Homo sapiens: one gene and its partners. The protein of the gene in region 2 purifies or fractionates together with the protein of the main gene of each other region. This does not show direct contact. Each region holds a gene or a part of one and is shown on either strand. Other genes may lie near its edges.

Region 1 (4,615 bases), on a different chromosome or scaffold from region 2:
TAAACAAATAAGGAAATTGAGACTCGAATAGCTCAAAATAACTTGCCTATTTAGTACAGCTGGTTAGTGAATGCCCTGAGTTTAAAAACCAGCTCCTGATATTTTCATTACATCAGCTATCTCCCTTAATTAACTTTCGATATTCATGATTTCAGTTTAAATTAGTTCACATTTTTTATTTCAACAAAACATTTGATGATTACCCTTACTGTATATTTTCCCATTCTAATGTTCCATTATCAGAATGGAAAATATCAAAAATACATTAGAGGACAAAAATAGTTTTCCCTCTAGTTTTCAAGGTCTTGCTCAGAAATAATCCTAGAATTCAGGGTATATATTAAGTTTTTAAGGTTTTCTTTCTTTCAAAGGAGAATAACACCTTTTGAGCTTCTGCCTTCCCTTCTTTCTTTACTGCACTGAGCTACTCAAAAGCATTTTCACTAAAGTAAATAACTGAGACATTTAGGCCATTTGCACATCATCTGATTTAACTCTGAAAACAGCTTATATATAAAACTGCCCTTTCTGCACATGTACCCCAGAACTTAAAGTATATATATATATAGTATATATAATATAATATATATAAATATGAATAAAATATATTTATATATATATATACTTTAAGTTCTGGGGTACATGTGCAGAAAGGGCAGTTTTGTTACATAGGTATAAACGGGCAATGGTGGTTTGCTGCACCCATCAACCCGTCACCTACATTAGGTATTTCTCCTAATGTTATCCGTCCCCTAGGTCCCCATCTTCTGACAGGCCCCTGTGTGTGATGTTCCCCTGAAAACAGCTTTTTTAACAAATAGGTGGAAATAAGATATACTTTTATGAATAATGAATTCTCTAGGGAAACCAGAGTTTCCTAGCTCAGATTTAGTGTGTACAAAGGTATGGACAATTATCTCAAGTGATGTAATGAAATTATCCCCAAGCCCACATAATTATAAACCAAATTCTTTTTCATTTCTTTTTTTTTTTTTTTTGAGACAGAGTCTCGCTCTGTCGCCCAGCCTGGAGCACAGTGGCACGATCTCGGCTCACGGCAAGCTCTGCCTCCCAGGTTCACGCCATTCTCCTGCCTCAGCCTCCTGAGTAGCTGGGAATATAGGCGCCCGCCACCACACCCGGCTATTTTTTTGTATTTTTAGTAGAGACGGGTTTTCACCATGTTAGCCAGGATGGTCTCGATTTCCTGACCTCGTGATCCGCCCACCTCAGCCTCCCAAAGTGCTGGGATTACAGGCGTGAGCCACCACGCCCGGCCCCAAATTCTTTTTCACCAGACTCTACTTAAAGTTGCCAATAAAGTATAATGTTTGTGTATATAGCAAGTCTGACCCACAGGAATAAACGACTCAACAAAATGCTGAATATTTTATCAGAAAAAGTAAGGTCTTCCTGCAAAATTGAAGAGATTAGATGATATGAGCATTAAACAAAAATTCAATGGTTTATTGAGTTTTAGAGGCTTGTGAGTACACTCTGTAAATGTACCACGCGTTTTACAAATTCTATTGAGTTTATGGAAACTTAAATTATCTAATCAAGGCTGTTCTCTCACACAGCTACTTGTGGGTGGGTGTCTTATTTTCAGGCCTCCAAAGTTGCTTTTGACACTGAATAATTTTAAAAGTCCCAGTATTTGACCTTCTGTTATAAGGACTAGTCAAACTTAACCATATAATTAGGTTACACAACTTGAAAAACAGAAAATATAATGAAGCAAGCAATAAACGTGGCAAAATATGGTGATTAAGAGCATGAGTTCTGGAGTCATGCTGAGTTGGAATTCCAGCACCTTAGCATTAGCTGTGTAATCTCCATCTGGTTACCTATCCTACCTCTGTCTAACTTCACTTGTTTATGTAATGGGGTTATAATAGTATCTTCTTTATGGGGTTATTTTGAGTGTTAAAGAGAATGATCTATGTAACATGTTTGGCACAGAAAGCTATTAATAGGTGTTAGTCATCATTATAATCATCATCAAAAGGAAAACAATACTGACAAGTTTAAAAAATTTGAAATTGTTTTGTTTGTATGGAAAAATAAGTTGGGAATGGTCTCTTATATTCACAGAACGTCAGAAACAAACTTAAAGATCCTCTAATCCACACTCGCCCACACCCATATCCCATTTCTCATTTCTCACATGAGGAAACAAATCTCAGAGAGAGAACATGAGTTGACCAGTATTACAAAAGTGGCTAGTAGTATAAATGGGAATAAAATCCAGGTCTGCTGACTCCAAGTCTAGCACTTTTTCCACTATGTCATGATAACCACCACCACCCCATTATCGCCTTCAATTATTTGGTCATCAGGAATGTGGGGCTGTGGCACAAAAGGCATAAAAACAAAAACATTGACTGTTCATTGAATTTAATAGTTTCAACATGAAGGATTTAGGTAAGCTATACACAGATGAGTAACAAAATTAAACACTGACTGATACAGGTTATTAAGAGGGAGATTTGGATTGTTATTCCTGGAGTGCTTTTAAAACTAAGATCTCCTTTTCATTCATTCTTTCAAAAATATTTTGGATCACTTTCTATGGAATGGTCAATGGCTATTTATGGGATGACTTGCTGCAATCTTGCCTAGATCTTGATGCCATTGAAAGTACCTTTCAACATCAAGGTTTTGTTCATTCTGGACATTTACTCACACCATCTTACTTAATTTTGTAGACTTCCAGGGAAAAGGGGTTTTCTTTAGCAAGTATTTCTGGAATTAATAAACCTATTTTCAGAGAGGTTTTCCCCCTTATGATCAGCCTAAATCCATACTGATGCAATTTAAATTCATGCTGTTCAACACCATATGTCTAAATATCTTTGACTCATATTAAGCTACATCTTAATGTTGTAATTTTTGAACCTATTATATTTGTTCTCTAATGTTTCCATGAGGGTTGCGTGGGAAAGCCACATTTGTCTAGATGATCAATTTTAATAATGAAGGCTGAAGTAGGGCTAAAAATAATTGAGTACATTATAATCTATGGACTTAATGTTCCAGCTTTCCACATATAAGAAGATTAAAGAATTCCTTCATTTTAGGGCAAGACTAGTCTTTGCTCAAATACAACTGTTTGCCATTTAAACATCTATTATCTTAACATCTGAATAAAGTAATACTGCTTATACTAGCATAAATAAATGTCTTTATCTGTGATGTGTGATGTGTGTGTATTCCTATTTGTTTAAATTTCTGCAGATTTATAAAACTTCTTAGTACGCTTTTGTATCTTAAAAGCTAGTCCAGTTGGCTAGTAAGATTTGCTATGTTTCATTTGCTAATGCCATCATATTTGAATTGGTTACAAGAAGGACAGAGCTATCATTTCTACAACAGCTACCAGATACTAACCATGTGTATAGTTGTCTTCTCAGAATGATACTAGTATAATATTATTAGCCCCAGCCTAAACAGACCAAACATCCTCTAGACATGAATACCTTCACACACTGCTGGTGGATGTATAATTATCATAGTCAAATTTGGGAAATTAGTTGGGCAGTATCTGTTCAAATGAATAACACACATACTCCATGCCCCAGCAATCCCAATTCTGTGTGGGATTCTAAAGAAACATGTTGCACAAGGATGCTCATTGCAGCACAGTGGAAACCTGGAAACAATATAAATGTTAATCAGCAGGAAAACATAAAAACAAGCTATAAAGCAAGCATTTTGGAATACTATTAATTGAAAATAATGAGTTAAAACATGTATCTAGTACATAATACAAGAGATACTGTTTGGTTTAAGTTGTAGAACAATGAAAGCAATAATATTACTATTTATACATAGGTATATATGTAAAGACATCTTAACTGACAACAATAGTCACTTCTGGGTAAGTGAATGGAGGAAAGATGGTCAAGAGAAGGTCTTTAACCTTATCTATATAAATGTTTATATTAAGAATGTGTTCATGTGTTATTCCATAACTAAAGAGCACCCCTCTTTTTTCTTGTCTTCTTGAATCTGCTCCTCTTGGGTCTGTGGGCCAAACCTGCCTGCACATGGTTGTATTTATAACCATTTTCCTAAACTGGATAATGTGTACCTGTTTTGTCTATAATCTGTAATTCTCTGCATTTGTCTGAGCAAGTCTTCTCAATTATTAGCAGAAAATCTGAGAATATATGCAAAAGATTCCTAGAAATACTGAGCCTGCAGTATTGCTGTTGATATAAAGGGTGGTGGAGGATGAAAATGTTACAAGTTCAACAACAGCAACAACAAGAAAGAATTCAGAACATTTGGCAGTTTGAGTAAATGCATAGTCCTGTTTTAAGAATACATGTAACACCTACATTATAGCTATAGTTCTGTATGAGTCTGTCAGTGTTTCCCTTGTAAATTAATGATTCTGATTTTTAATAGTTCCCTTGTTCTACAGAAAAAATATTTATACCTTTGTAGGAAGATATAATGGAGTCGTGCCAATTGATTGTAAATTATGGTAAGGTATGGGGAGATTGAGTAACGCCATCATTTCTTTGCACACTAATGAAGTGATTGCAGTTTTGTTGGTTTTGAGGAAATATGTAAACAATGCCAGCATGATGGACAGATTGATCATTTT
Region 2 (5,365 bases):
AATGAATAGAGTCGAATCCGTCACATTCTGGACCGGCAGTTACTATGTGATGTGGCAAAAAAGCAGTGATCCGTTCCATTGTTCAAAAATAGAAATCTCTCTGGAAAACGCTTTTCTAAGAGCCTCAAGAGAAGACCTAACAAGGAATTAAGCAGTAAAAAACTGGTGTTTAAGTGACTCCTCCACGTGAGGCTCTAACAGCAACGACACTTCCTTCCCTTGAGCGCCCTTCTGCATAGGACAGAGGGGCTTGCCGGGGTGGAAGTTGGCGGCCACACTGCCCAGCGCCCTTCGCGGCTCCCTTTTTAGGAAATTTGGGAGGAATCCAATCGAATGGCCATCAAGGCAGTGTGAGTACGTGTACACGTCCAACTTGGTCAGTAGTGGTATTATTAAAGTTTTGTATAGATCAAGTTGGGCCAAAATGTTAGTTTTCTGTCCTCCCTGCAAGGTGGCCCCTATACAGCTCAATTGCCCAGTCCCGAATTAGAATTCTAGTTCAATACTGACCCAAAGGAAAGACTTCCATATGCTAAATCCCTGTCCTTGACACTCTTGTCCTGGAATTCTCCTCCCCTCTGCCCAGGGCAGCAGCTCACCGGGAGGGAGAGGAGGAACTGCGTGGCACTGCTGCTGGCACTATGTGGATGAGGAAGCATGCGGTGTGCATACACTTTGCAGTCGTCGTCGTTGTATTTCAGTAAGTGAGAGGAATTATACTAAACTGTATTCTACAAAGTTTGTGCTTCTGGAAAATCTGATTTGCTACTGTTCAGCTTCAAAACTCGAGAGATAACTGAAGACATGACAGGGATGGAAGTTTGCAAGGCAAAGGCTCAAAGGTAGGAAGGACCCTGCAAAGGTTGAGGGCGACAGAGCACAGCGTTTGGATGCACGTGCAGACATTATGCGGACAGAGCATTCCAGTGGTAAGTGATATAGACCAGCACTATAAAGAGAATATGGACAAGACAGAAGCCTATAAGGTCCCTGGAGCGGAGGGCAGAAGTTGGTGGTGGGGCTTTCTCCCCGAGTGCCAGCAGAGTGTCAACAGTCTTTCGAATGTGACGAAAATCCAACTGCAGGATGTCACACGGAGAGCAGAGGTCAGCCTATTCCGAGGGCAGCCATTAGAACAGAAAGAGACAGTGCATACAATTAAAAATACACGGAGGAACAGCTAGAAAGAAGCACACATTTTTGGTTACTAGCAAATGGCAGGAGTAACCCCTTATTTCAAGCAGGTAAGACCCTTTCATCATCAAAGATTTTTTAATCCATCATAATAGTAGAATAGAATACCTATTTTGTGCCAATGGGTCAAAGAAATCCTTCACTCACAATCTCGCCATGGAGGAACGGCCTGTTCTGCAATTTACACATCATTCTGCCTTTCACACAGTTTTAATATTCAAGGTATCATGTGCTCATCAGTGGCATAAAAATAAGATTTTCACGTGGGACATTTCAACTTAACCTTACTAAATGAAAAACTATAAAGTTTAAAATGGAATCCCTACCCCCACTCTCCATTCTCTTAGTGCATTTTTTACCCTGGTCTATGTAGACTTGGATATAAAGTAGTTCTCTCTGAAAGTTAACACACACATTTAATTTTTTTTTTCATTTTACGCTTGATAAACTCTGGGCAATGCTAGTTCTAAGTATGTCCCTACATGTGTCAGAAAGTACATTACATTTCATATTTTTGCAACAACACATTAACCAAAAGTCTAGGGGAGGCTTCTTGGATGTGTAGTGAGAGTAGAGAGTAAAAGTACACCCCCACATGGAGTTACTATGTAAATTGCTTCACTACTAAACAGGTATATTGGGGCAGGGGGGGTAGACCTCTGTGTTTTATCTACTCAACAGTCACCATGTAAGGAAGCAGAACACCTATTTCTCAGCTAACTGCAAACTAAGAGGCTCAGTTTTCTGCGTTGACTTTCAGCAGCCTATTGCTGTCAGAAAGCAAACAATTGTCTCACATGCTGAATTCCTGAACCGGAAATGACCACAGTTTAAAATTAACAGGAATTATAATTGATATATTAGCAAGAAATAAAAGCTGTGGTTCTGTTTCCAAATTAAACAAAGATTGAAAATACGTGTGATCTATTTCATAAATGCAGTTTTATTTACAAATTAGGTGAGGCATTTAAGATATATGTTATGTATATTTTACATACTTTGCTACAATTTTGTCCTTTATTTTGGCCTCACTGCTAAGCAGCTGCACATCATGGAGTGACTGAAAGATGTTTCTAAGTTAGAAGTTTTGCCTCACTTGTGTCCTCTGAAGTTAGCTCGATACCCTCAGTTAAGTAGGAATACTACAAAATTAGGTTGGTTGAATAAGATTAAAAACATTCTAATTTTATTTTATTAATGAAGTTAGAGATACTCTTAACAAAATATTTTTAAGATGAATAAATCATGTTATATGTATTCAGATGTTGTATCTTTTCTCAGTGGATCTGGAGAAATCAAGCTACCACTGTTAGGGTTCTCCCAAGAATTAAAACAGCTACACATAAATTGGATTTCACTGGGAGACTGATGCTGCTCATGGATTAATAGATGAGGAAACATCTAAGAAAAGTTTTCTATTGCAATAAGAATTTTCTATTGCAATGTTGTGCTTGACCAGGGAAATCCGAGCAAAGCAGTCATAAGACAGAAGGCTGATATGCAAACTGAAATGTGATTTTCACAAAACTAGTATTTTCATGTTAAAAGCAGATGATTCTATCTTCACCAAGTATTTCAATACATTTCGCAGAACCCTAAGGAACATGTCTGGTCTGCTCTCTGGCAGCACCATCAGAGAACTAGAGTCAGATCAACTTGGCAGTTTTCAGTAGTACACTCCTCATGGGGGCAGGCAACACAGACCATTCTTCTCATCCAGGAAACAATTTCACGATGCCACAGACTCTGGGCTTAATTAAAGTGGGTGAGACCTAGAGTCACAGCCTATAGTGGTTAATTTAAATTAAATCATAATCTCTAAAGAAAAAGGAATGGATCTAAGACTGTCTAGTAGGCAAAAATGTGAAGCACCATGATGATTGTGTGGAGTGTGAGCTGCTGTGGCCATCTGAGAACTGCTCTCTGATTCAACCCTATGTCACATAGCCAACAGTCATTTCAGCCCTTGAAATGGGGCCATGAAGCAAACCAGGGCTAAAATTCCTAATTTCTGACCTGGGAGGTTCTGCCCTTTGTGCTTTCCAAAATTTAGCCTTACTGAGAGGGACGTAGAGATTATACTTTATTTCTTTATGAAAATTAAAATTGGAAAATGCTAAAAAGTAAGGAAATTTAAAGAGGCAAAATTTCACCATGTATTTACAAAGCATTTGTAATCACTGCAAGCCATTTGTAAAACACAGTTAATTCACTAAGAGTCCCCAGAGGCAAGTGCGGATGCTAATGCCCATTATAGTGAACAAAAATCACAATCGCCAGAGGTTAAGAAATTCACTTAGGTTGCACACAACCAGAGTGTGTGACCGAGATTACTACTGGACCAGGTTCCCCAAATACTATGGATACAAAGAGAAAAGTAGACAGATCCAGCAGTTCAGGGTGTACTACAGTCTAAATTCTAAGAGCTAAACATATCTAGGCAGAAGTTTTATTTAAAACTTTGGAATATATTTACTTTACTTAAATATAATCTTAATATAAAAAGTCAATATGCTTACAAAGTATTTTTTAATCTAAAATATCATAATATAAGAATGTTCATGGTCATTCTGCAATATTTAAAGCCATAATTCAGCGATGAGGTATAATTTGGCAGGGAGAGGAGAGAGGTGGGGAAGGATTTCCAGTCTTCTCCAAATATATGACAACTAATTGCCAATTTTATGAACTTAGAGAAAGCTAGGAATAGCTTGGAAATTAGTTGCATTCTTTATAGCTAGAAAAGAGATAGATTGGCTGTTTTCAATAAATTATGAATTTTAAAATTGATGTTAGTAAAACAATGAACCTGTCTTTCACCCTTAGAATTAACCAATATAAATGGAAAATTAAAATAAATCTTGTAATAAGAATCTCATCCTTCCACAAAGTGTTAGTTATGATTTAAATTAACACTAAAGTCATTGACTTGGGGAAGAAAAATAGGTATAAGGCTCAGAGAAGATAAGGGACCCATTTCTCTTATTCTTAAGATTAAAACAAAAAAACAGTAGCTTCAATTTATAGATTGTCTTTCAAAAACAAAAACTTCAATCAGTGGTATGTGTAATTTCCTAAACCCTCACAAGAGGTGTAAAGTGGGAACGCTATTATGACTTTCATATATAAAACCTTTAACACAAAAAATGCGAATATGAAAATTACAAAAGATAAGGAAAACTCAGCCATAATTCCACTTACATTGACACAATCATCATTAGCATCTGAATGTACTTTAGGGTTTTATTTGTAACTCCCTTTGGCTGATGCAGAAGCTCAAGGATGCCAAGTGACCTGCCCTTTTGCATGTGGAATGAAAACTTTCTCCTTCCTCCAGCACTCTGAGCTGCCCAGATAGGCAGGAAGGAGCCCTAAGCTGAAAGGAGGCTACCACTGTCAGCTGAGTTGCTGCCTTTAATCTTCTTCTCTATCTTTTCTCTGGAAACAGTAAGGAAGATGAAGGACTGAACATTTAGACAACAGAGTACATTTCTATTCTAACTCCCCTCATCTAAAGAAGGCAAGTCTGTTAAACTAAGGATCTCATGCCTTACAGAAGTTTGAGATCAAAGTTACCTATTTAAAATTAAGTAGAAAAATTTCCCTGGTGAACCAAATAAATATCTATTTCCTAATTTTTTGATGCTTCATAAATTAGATTTCTCTCAACCTGAGAGAATACTAATAAGAGCCCTAAAATATCCCTAAATTTGGATCCATTTGAAAACCTCCAATAGTCAACCATGAACTGTACCTACCAGGAACATGTAGCCAATCTGCTACATAGAGGTTAGAGGTCAGGAATCTCCAAGAGCACTCAGAAAAGTCAAAGGAAGCCCCAATGTGTCCATTAAAAGCCTCATGGGGTCAAGGCCTAATTGGAGTCAGATTCTTAGGTGACGCAGAAAATATATCCCAAAGAATTTGGAAGCCCACTAAGGCCTGTCTTCAAGACCAAGTTGATGCTTGCACTAGAGGTCGAAGACAGCTACAAAGTCTGACCACTAAGCATCAACAGCACAAAGGGATGTGGGATGGTACCTAATGCTGCTTATAATTCTGAATGTAGCCAATGTGAAAATGCTGCATTTATGAATCAGCCACAACAGAACTACTGTCTTCTACACTACTGTAAAAAGTGGGCTTAAAATACCACCAAGGGTTGGGCACA
Region 3 (4,615 bases), on a different chromosome or scaffold from region 2:
AAGAAGTATCTCAACAAAGATCCACGAGATTTTAAGCGCACTGATGATTTTGAGGAAAGCAACAGAATGCATGGTATATCCAAAGTTTAAAAAGAAGCCTATGTTGAGATAAGCTCATAGGAATTCCTGTAAATGTAGGAGGCTCCCAGCATCCTTCTCTGAGCCTTTCCTCCTTCCCAGGGGCACCTGGACTGAAGAAAGTCCTCTAATGCTTTCCTTCAGACTGAACCAGCCTAGCCACTGATTGGCTGGCAGCAAAGTCATTGAGGCTTTGTACTAACTTGTAGGGACATGTATTTCTGAATCCTGGGATCTCTAAGCTCTAAGACTGTAAAGTAATTCTTTAAAAACAAATCATCATTTATTGTCATATTTTTATAAGAATATGCCATAACTTCTATTTGTTTAAATTTAAGGGCCAGGTTTAATTGTCTCTGGGATATGAAACACTACCATCAAATTTCTGTTTTAATGTATCTGTGTTACTTCTACATAATTTAAGGTAGTTTGTTGGTGGGAGTAATGTGTTCACATTGACACATCCACAGTTTCTCACCAACAGCTATTTTTGACCAAAAGTGCACAAAAAGGCCTTGCCCAAGGTCACAAAGCTACTTGTTAATATAGATTAGAATATAGTAGCCTGATTCCCCATTCAGCTACTCTTTCCCCTACCAGTTTTGCTTTCTTCTCCTAAAGATGTCTTAGTATGCTCTCCATTTTTAATGAATGCAGGTCATTTGGTTGCACCACAATGCACAGAATCAAAAGTCAGTAGACAGTGGAGGAGTGGGAGTCACCATCATGTAAACTCAGTTTGCTTTGGTCATTGTTAGGTCATGAGCTCAGCCCGTGTGAAGCTCTCTTTTATTTTTGGAGATTCAGCCAGGCTTAAACTATTCTCAACAAGTGAAATATTAAGAAAATACCTTCTAAGTCACTCAATTTTTATTTACATAAACTTGTTTATGCCTTGATTTGTTCTCTGTAGAGTGGTATAAATCTGACTACCTCTCCAATGAGACTGTATTTCCCTTCATAAAGAGATTATGCTGAATAAACAAACAAAACACTGCCACCAAGATACGGCTTTAAAACTGCTATTTCTCTGTTCTCGCTCTCTTTGTAGAAGGATTTCTCAGTTATCTGAATTTTGGGTCTAGAATGGTAGGACACTGCTAGGGGTGAGTGAGATTGTTGCATGTTTACTAGACAGATGAAAATATCAGTGACCTAAAGATCTTCTGGAAACATTTAAAAAATCAGCTTATCTTTTAACTAACCAAAGGTTATTTTCTTATCACCTTTTAAAGCCATTAATGGAAAGATTTTTGGGAATCTCCATGGCCTCATAATGAACGAAGATACAATGACAAACTGGTATTTGTTAGGGATAGGAAGTGAAGTGGACATACATACCATCCATTATCATGCTGAGAGCTTTCTTTTCAAAGTAAGTATAAGGAAAGTGCTTTGGGAAAGACGTTTTTGAACTAACAAATTCAATGTATTTCCAGTGGAAAATAAGAGTTACTTGGCAATAATGCTTGTGAGGATAGGTGAGAATGGAACAGAATAATGTGATTGTACCGTTTCCCTGGTGGATATTTCTTTTCTTTTTTTTTTTTTTTTTGAGACGGAGTCTTGCTCTGTTGCCCAGGGCGGAGTGCAGTGGCACAATCTCAGCTCACTGCAAGCTCCACCTCCCGGGTTCATGTCATTCTCCTGCCTCAGCCTCCCGAGTAGCTGGGACTACAGGTGTGTCCCACCACGCCTGGCTAATTTTTTTTGTATTTTTTAGTAGAGACGGGGTTTCACCATGTTAGCCAGGATGGTCTCAATCTCCTGACCTCGTGATCTGCCCGCCTCGGCCTCCCACAGTGCTGAGATTACAGGCGTGAGCCACCACGCCAGGCCTGGCTATTTCTTAATATGTATATGTATATTATTGTGCTTATAAAAATCTCTCCAAGCCTCAGGTGAGAGTTTTCTCATTAGTGATCTGGGGATAACTCTGACCACCCTGGAATATGCTGTTAATATTGTATATGAAACCACGGACACTGACAGCATTCGTCCCTTTTCCTCACCCTTCCTTTTTTCTTTCCCTTTCCTTCTCCCCACCCTTTTCTTTTTCTGTGTGATTAGCTAACAGAATAGCTCTATCCAGTAAAGGAGCTATTTTGAGCTCTGGCCTAAGCCCTGAAACTTTATCTTGACTTTTGCCCTAGTGAGCTGGGCTGGACCATGTGTGACTTTCTACCCTCTAGCATCAAGCTGTACCATATGGGTGGTGCTCACTGTACAGCAGAGCCATCTGGGGAACTATGTAAAAACCCAACTGCCAGGCCCGACCCAGACCTGCTGAATCAGAATCTCCATGGAAAGGTCCAAATAGTCTGTCATCCGAAGTTCTCAGTGCTTTCTACAAGGAAGTGGAATAGAAAAGAACAATCATATCCAATGTGTGGAGAAAACTGGAATTGATCTTTTCTAGTTAGACACGAATAAACGGTAACTTTAATAAAACATTTAATATCCTTTCTCCTTTGTATATTTCAACGTTGTTTACGACACCAAGTATTAGCCTGCTATGATTAGAGTTTCACATATTAAATGGCTATGCTGCTTTTCAGAATTTGGCTTTTTTAAACTCACATTTTAAAAATTATATTAAAAATTTATAAAATTTAATACACAAAATTATAAAAATTTACATATACACTTTAAAAATAAGATATAATTTACATTGAATACAATTCACCATATTTAGTGTACAGTTCTCTTTTGATAAGCACATACAGTAGTGTAACGAACAACAATCACAATATAGAATACTTTTATTTCCCCCACAAATTTTACCATTGCACCCTCTAGTGTCAACTACTTCCCCATACTTAACACTTGTCAACCACTGTCTCTATAGTTTTGCCTTTTTTGAAAGGTTATGTGGAAATCATAGGTTGTAGCATCTTGAATCTGGCTTGTTTGATTTAACATAGGCATTCAAATTGTATCCATCTTGTTATGTGTATCAGTGGTTTGTTTCTTGTGACTGTTGAGTAGTATTCCATTGTAAGGATATAATGCAGTTTGTTTATCTATTCTCCTGTTGAGGAACATTTGAGTTATTTTCAAGTTTGTTTATTACAAATCAAGTCATTACAAACATTTGTGCACATGTTTTTGTGTGAACATATGTTTTCATTTTCCTTGAGAAAATACCTAGAAGTAGGATTGCTAAGCCATGTGATAAGTGTATGTTTGATTTCATAAGAAACCACCAAACTGTTTTCCAAAAAGGCAGTATCATTTTGCATTTCCAAGGAAATATACGAGAACTCCATATGTTGCACATCCACATATGCAGTTGGTATTTTTAGTTTTTATTTCATTTTTTTCCCTTAGGCATTCCCTCCTTGGGGAGGGGATATAGTGGTATCTCATTGTTTTTCATTTACATTTTCCCAGTGGCTAATGATATTGAGCATCTTTTCATGTGTTTGTTTACCATCTGTCATCTGTAAATCTTTGGTGAAGTGTCCAAATTGTAAGCCCATTTAAAAAAATTGGGTTACTTGTTTCCTTATTGTAGAGTTTGAGGGCTTTATATATTCTGGATACAAATCCTTTTTCAGTGATGTGACTCACAAATATTTGCTTCCAGTTTGTGGCTTATCTTTTCATTCTCTTAACAGCTTTCAAATAGAAGTTCTTAATTTTTGATGAAGTAAAATGAAGTACAATTTTTCTTTTTTCTCTTTTATAGATCATACTTTTGGTGTCATGTATAAAAAATTTTGGCCTTACTGAAGGTCCCAAAAAAGGTCTCTGTTTTCTTTTAGAAGTGGTATAGTTTTAGATTTAGGGCTCTGATACATTTTAATTTTCATATGTGGTTCAAGATATGAAATAAGGTTCATTTTTTTTTCATATATATGTCCAAATGTTCCATCACCACTCATTGAAAAGATCATCTTTTTTTCCCACAGAATTGACTCTTTACTTTTGTGAAAATCATATTGACCACATATATGTGGGTCTATGTCTGGGCGGTCTCTTCTGTTACACTGGTTTATACTCTGCCCTTTCTTGAATGCCACAATGTTTTGATTACTTTAGTATTATAGTAAGTCTCAAAATCAGATGGTGATTGTTTTAGCTATTCTAGATGTTTGCCTTCCCAGATAAATTTTAGAAATAATTTGTTGATTTTGATTTTTAAAATCCTGTTGGGATTTTGATTGGTATTGCACTGAAGCTATACAATGGGTTGGACAGAACTGACATAACAATATTGAGGCTTCCAATCCATGAACATGGTATATCTATCGTTTAGCTCTTCTTTGATTTCTTTCATCAGCATTTTGTAGTTTTCAATATAGAGATCTTGCATATACTTTGTTTTATTTATTTATAACTAAGTATATAAAAGGCTTTGGTAATAGTGTAAATGATAGTGTTTTTATTTTGATTTATAGTTGTTTATTGCCAATATTTAGAAATATAATTGATATTTGCATGTTGACCTTGCATCCTGCATCTTTGCTAAACTCACTTTAGTTCCAATAGTTTTCCTATAGATTTTAGGGGGATTTTCTATGCAGACAATCAT
Region 4 (4,615 bases), 5.9 Mb from region 2:
TGTACATCAAAACAGACAAAACTGACAAGTTCAAGGGAAGAGACATTGTCAGTATCAAATCTTAAAGACAGGCTGATTATTGTATCTTTTTAAAAAAACCCCTTTATTGAAAAACATTATATCTGTCTTAGTAAATACACAAATGCCACACACTCTAAGTGGATTTTTATTCTTTACTGTACTAGAATTTGAGAGGTAAAATAACCCTTATACTCAAAAGTTATCATTCTTATTTTCTTGTCCCTGTTAAAGGGCTGAAAGAATCTACAAGCTTATAAACACATGGGTGATTAGTTCACCAGTATTTCTATAATTTTGAAAATATTACTAGTAACAAACTTTTCAATGGTCTTACCTTTGTTGAAAGTACTTTAAACGTGCTCTGTTCTGGTATTATAGGATGAAGAAGTTCCAGTTTCAAATTGTAATCCTCTCCAGAAGGAAGTTTAACCAAAGCAGACAACTAATGAACACAAAATTAGCATCACATTTTGTAAATGTATATAATGGAGGGTAAAAAACCTACACAAAATAATGACAAATCTTCAATAATGTTACAAATTATTTTAAACATTATATATGGAATTTTAGATTTAAGAACCTCAAAAGGTTCTCAAAGATTTAAGAACCTTTTTTTTCCATCTGGTATCCTTGACATGAATTCTTATAGACATCATTAAACAGCAGAAAAGAATAAGTTTCATAATATTTGTCATATATTTAATCACACCTATTTGATATTTAGATTTCAAGAAAACATACAAAAGCAAAATGATATATAACAAAAAGTGATCCATGTGCAAAACATACAGTTCTATCACTACCTCTTTTAAATAATCTATTATAAGGTTCTCTACTAAATGGTAAGAAATCAAGTTGTTAAAAGTCATACTCAAGAGGCTGGGCACGGTGGTGCATGCCTCTAATCCCAGCACTTTGGGAGGCTGAGATGGGTAGATCACTTGAGGTCAGGAATTCGACAACAGCCTGGCCAACATGGTGAAACCCCGTTTCTACAAAAATTAGCCAGGCACGGTGGCATGTGCCTGTAGTCCCAACTACTCAGGAGGCTGAGGCAGGAGAATTGTTTGAACCCAGGAGGAGGAGGCTGCAGTGAGCCGAAATTGCGCCACTGCACTCCAGCCTACGCAAGAGCGAGACTCTGTCTCAAAAAACAACAACAAAAAAAGTCATACTCATTTAACATGGCTAGTCAATTCTAAGACATGTGTGATCACAAAACTAACTAGATCTTTTTCATGAAGTACACCACACAAGTATAACCAAAGCACATTATCTTACTAATATAACCAAATTCTGCTTTAAATTTCAAATCTAAAGAAAAAAATGCACATCCAGCTATAATTTACCAACATACATATTCTTACCTCAAAGCAATGGCTTCAGATTTTATTCAACATTTTCCAAATCATCTCAGGAAGAAATAGCATTTATCTGATAAACCGTTATCGATTATTCTGCAATATACTAAATTTGCAAATAATAGTAATCAACATTGAAAAATGATTCAGTCTACTGACCTCTTTTTCTGAAAATTCCACATTTACATCATTCTTCTGAACATTCTTGATCATAAGTGTAATGACTACTTGAGATTCTGTTTGATACCAGTCATACCTATTAAAAAAAAAAAAGAAACTTAGGTAACTCTTCTAATTTTTTTAAAGCTATTGTCAAAACAAAAACTAGTCTGATAAACAACAAGAGCCCCACCTGGAGGAAGAAAACAGCAAAGCAACTACTGATTCACAGAAACAACTTTATATAACTAGTTTTTTATGCTCTGTACTAATGGAAAAAAATGGTAAGGTAAATGATGCTCACACCTTTCCAGTAGACTTAAATACTTGCATGATTTTCTGGGTTCTGACTCATCTCTAGCACTGTTGTGCTTAAACTAATATAAATATTAAAGATGTCATTTATTTTAAACAAGCTAATATTTATATGCCATCAATAGAGTTTTTATACTCTCATTTCATCCAAATACTACAGATAAACACTTAAATCCCTATTTTACAGATGATAAAACTTAAGCTCAGAAAGGTGAAGCAATAAGCCTGAGTCAACACTCCAAGCTCTCAAAACTGATGTTGGAAGCAGATAGACTTGAGCACACAAAACAGGGGCAAATGAACTAAAATTAAAATCATATGAAGTTTAACTGTGTCAGGCACAACATCATATACAACACTTTCCTTCAATTTCAAGATACATGGAAAGACTAATGGGTCTAGATTCTAATTATGTGCATCTTTTGTACTGAAAGCTCTAGAAACGTAGGAATCCTCACTTTCAAATTAGACTAGATTAAAAGCTCTCTGAGGGCAGAGCTGTTTATCCTGTCGCTATTATATCCCTAGGACCAAGCACAGTGTCCGGTACACGTATATTAAGTTAGATGTGGGATTATTTTATGCTCTGAACACCTTAATTATTATTTCATGGTTATGTGCCCTACCCCTGCTGCTGCCACCAGGGCAAGTCAAAGTTCCTTATCTACTAGGTACTTGGAGTTTCATCCTGTATCTCCCCACAACTACCATGAATAGATGGTTTTTAACTTTTCCAGGCCATTTTAGGTAATTATATCCAAAACCACCTTGATTAAAGAAATGAACTTTAAGAGTCTCGGTTTCCCTTTGCAATTCAGTAAGGATGCAAAGCTCCAGATCAACGGCTTGTGTTTCTGTTACGGTCCTAAGAATACAAGCTGTACACAGGCTAATGAATAATTAAAAGTCAAAGACTTGCTAGTTGCTTATTCATTATTATAATTGCTGCCCTCAGCAATATTAACTTTCAACGCATACAGAATGTTCCTATGAAAAATTTGCTCCAAATATAAAAGGCAGGTTAAGTTACAATTCTGTTAGATCTACTACTAACTTGTTTACCTGTGTAGTAACATAAACTTAACTGGAAGAGACTCTCCTTAACATATGGAAAGGTAACATAATATGAAACCAAGTGAAGCAACTTTAAAGATGAGAAATGATTTGAATTTAACTGAAGTACAAATATTAATCCTTAAACAGCCTTAAAATTGGCTTTACATAAAGCTATTACACAATTTTAGAAAACAAACAAAAACTTAAAAATCACATGGTAAGAATTTGCTTACTATTAAACTACAGGGTTTCTTCCTCTTTAGGCATATTTATCATGCATTGTTTTATGAAAAAGAAACACTCACTTGATTTTTGACTGATGAGTCCACTGGGATGCAGATTGATTTTGGTAAGTTGAAAGAGAAAGATTTTTACAAGTCAGTTTAGCAACTGTATTATTAAAATGCATGTATTATTAATTTACCCAACACTGCAGTTATTTTGATATAAAATAACTACATGAAAATTTTCTTCAAAGACATAGTAACTGTAATTGTTAAATACCACTAGTTTTCGGAAAAAAATTAGAATGCTCAGCATTTAAAAAATCTTAGATTGAATTTCATAAAAGATTTTTGCTCTAAAATAACAGAACTTTAAATAACAGAAAACTTCTAAAGGCATGATTAGAAAAGGTTGCTTATATAAAATGGCCAGTTCTAAGATTCAGCAACTTCCTAAACTAAAATAACATTGTTTTAAAAATCGTTTTAAAGAAACAGAGTAATTAGCCAGGCTTGGTGGTGTACATCTGTAGTCCCAGCTACTTGGAAGGCTGAGGTGGGAAGATTGCTTGAGCCCAGGAGTTTGAAGCTCAAGTGCACTATGATGGCACCACTGCACTCCAGCCTGCATGACAGAGCAAGACCCTGTCAATTTCCAATTTTCTTTAACTTTTGTCTTAGCCTATCATAAAAAGCCCTACAAGTGATTCAAACTGTTGAACCTAAATAAATGCAATAAGGTTTTAGTAACGAAAAGATAAATGATCATCATGACCATATTAAAACACACGAAATCAACTTTAACCACACACTAAATTCATTAAAATAGGCCAATAATTTTCATGACTGGAAACTTCTATATTTATCAAAAAATGATTTTATTTCAGTGCCTAGAGGAACCAGCACTTAAATGGAATTGCTTAATATTTAAATATCAGACAGCTCATCCTGAGTCTTGTCTCAAATATATTTGGTAGCTGAAATTTAAAATAATAAAAACATGAAGAATGAAAACTTTGGACTTACCACCTCAGATTCTGAGCCTATTAAAACATAAAAAGGAAACATTTTCAGGGAACAGTGCATTTTTAAGCAAAGTTATTTGTATGATTTCTATAGCACAAACATACTGATTAAGCAAGCAAATTCTCCGTACCTTTCAACTAAAGAAAAGTGGTTTCATTTTGCATCCTGAATTCATTTTAGACTCCTTAGTAATTTCTTACTGATATACCATACAAGCAAATCCACCCAAATCCCCCTTTCAACATAAGAAGCTATGCAAAAACCAGTGTATCTTTGGAAGTCCACATCTAAGGAAACGTATACTATTTAAAAGAAATTATAAAGATAAAAACAAATTTGTTTAAACCAAAAAAATTTCAGATGTTTACTTCTTTTTAAATTGAAACAAATACCAAGGGAGACCCACATACCATTCTGAGCTTCTTGACACCTTTTAATCCAGACACTGAAATT

Evidence for each region.
Region 1: the proteins of LRCH1 (region 2) and POF1B purify together in Homo sapiens (co-immunoprecipitation; one large-scale study listed by IntAct). This does not show direct contact.
Region 3: the proteins of LRCH1 (region 2) and HEPHL1 purify together in Homo sapiens (affinity purification with mass spectrometry; one large-scale study listed by BioGRID and IntAct). This does not show direct contact.
Region 4: the proteins of LRCH1 (region 2) and SUGT1 purify together in Homo sapiens (co-immunoprecipitation; 2 studies listed by BioGRID and IntAct, with this or other methods). This does not show direct contact.

Annotation. Positions count from the first base shown.
Region 1 is NC_000023.11:85,368,727-85,373,341, reverse strand, and holds part of POF1B (protein POF1B), read left to right. Parts: intron 1-4,615. UniProt on the Homo sapiens protein: Plays a key role in the organization of epithelial monolayers by regulating the actin cytoskeleton. May be involved in ovary development.
Region 2 is NC_000013.11:46,737,389-46,742,753, reverse strand, and holds part of LRCH1 (leucine-rich repeat and calponin homology domain-containing protein 1), read right to left. Parts: intron 1,113-5,365; coding exon 906-1,112; 3' UTR 1-905. UniProt on the Homo sapiens protein: Acts as a negative regulator of GTPase CDC42 by sequestering CDC42-guanine exchange factor DOCK8. Probably by preventing CDC42 activation, negatively regulates CD4(+) T-cell migration.
Region 3 is NC_000011.10:94,104,678-94,109,292, forward strand, and holds part of HEPHL1 (ferroxidase HEPHL1 precursor), read left to right. Parts: coding exon 1-73; intron 74-1,313; coding exon 1,314-1,453; intron 1,454-4,615. UniProt on the Homo sapiens protein: Is a copper-binding glycoprotein with ferroxidase activity. It oxidizes Fe(2+) to Fe(3+) without releasing radical oxygen species. May be involved in the regulation of intracellular iron content.
Region 4 is NC_000013.11:52,662,660-52,667,274, reverse strand, and holds part of SUGT1 (protein SGT1 homolog), read right to left. Parts: coding exon 4,573-4,615; intron 4,180-4,572; coding exon 4,163-4,179; intron 3,241-4,162; coding exon 3,218-3,240; intron 1,639-3,217; coding exon 1,542-1,638; intron 464-1,541; coding exon 356-463; intron 1-355. UniProt on the Homo sapiens protein: May play a role in ubiquitination and subsequent proteasomal degradation of target proteins.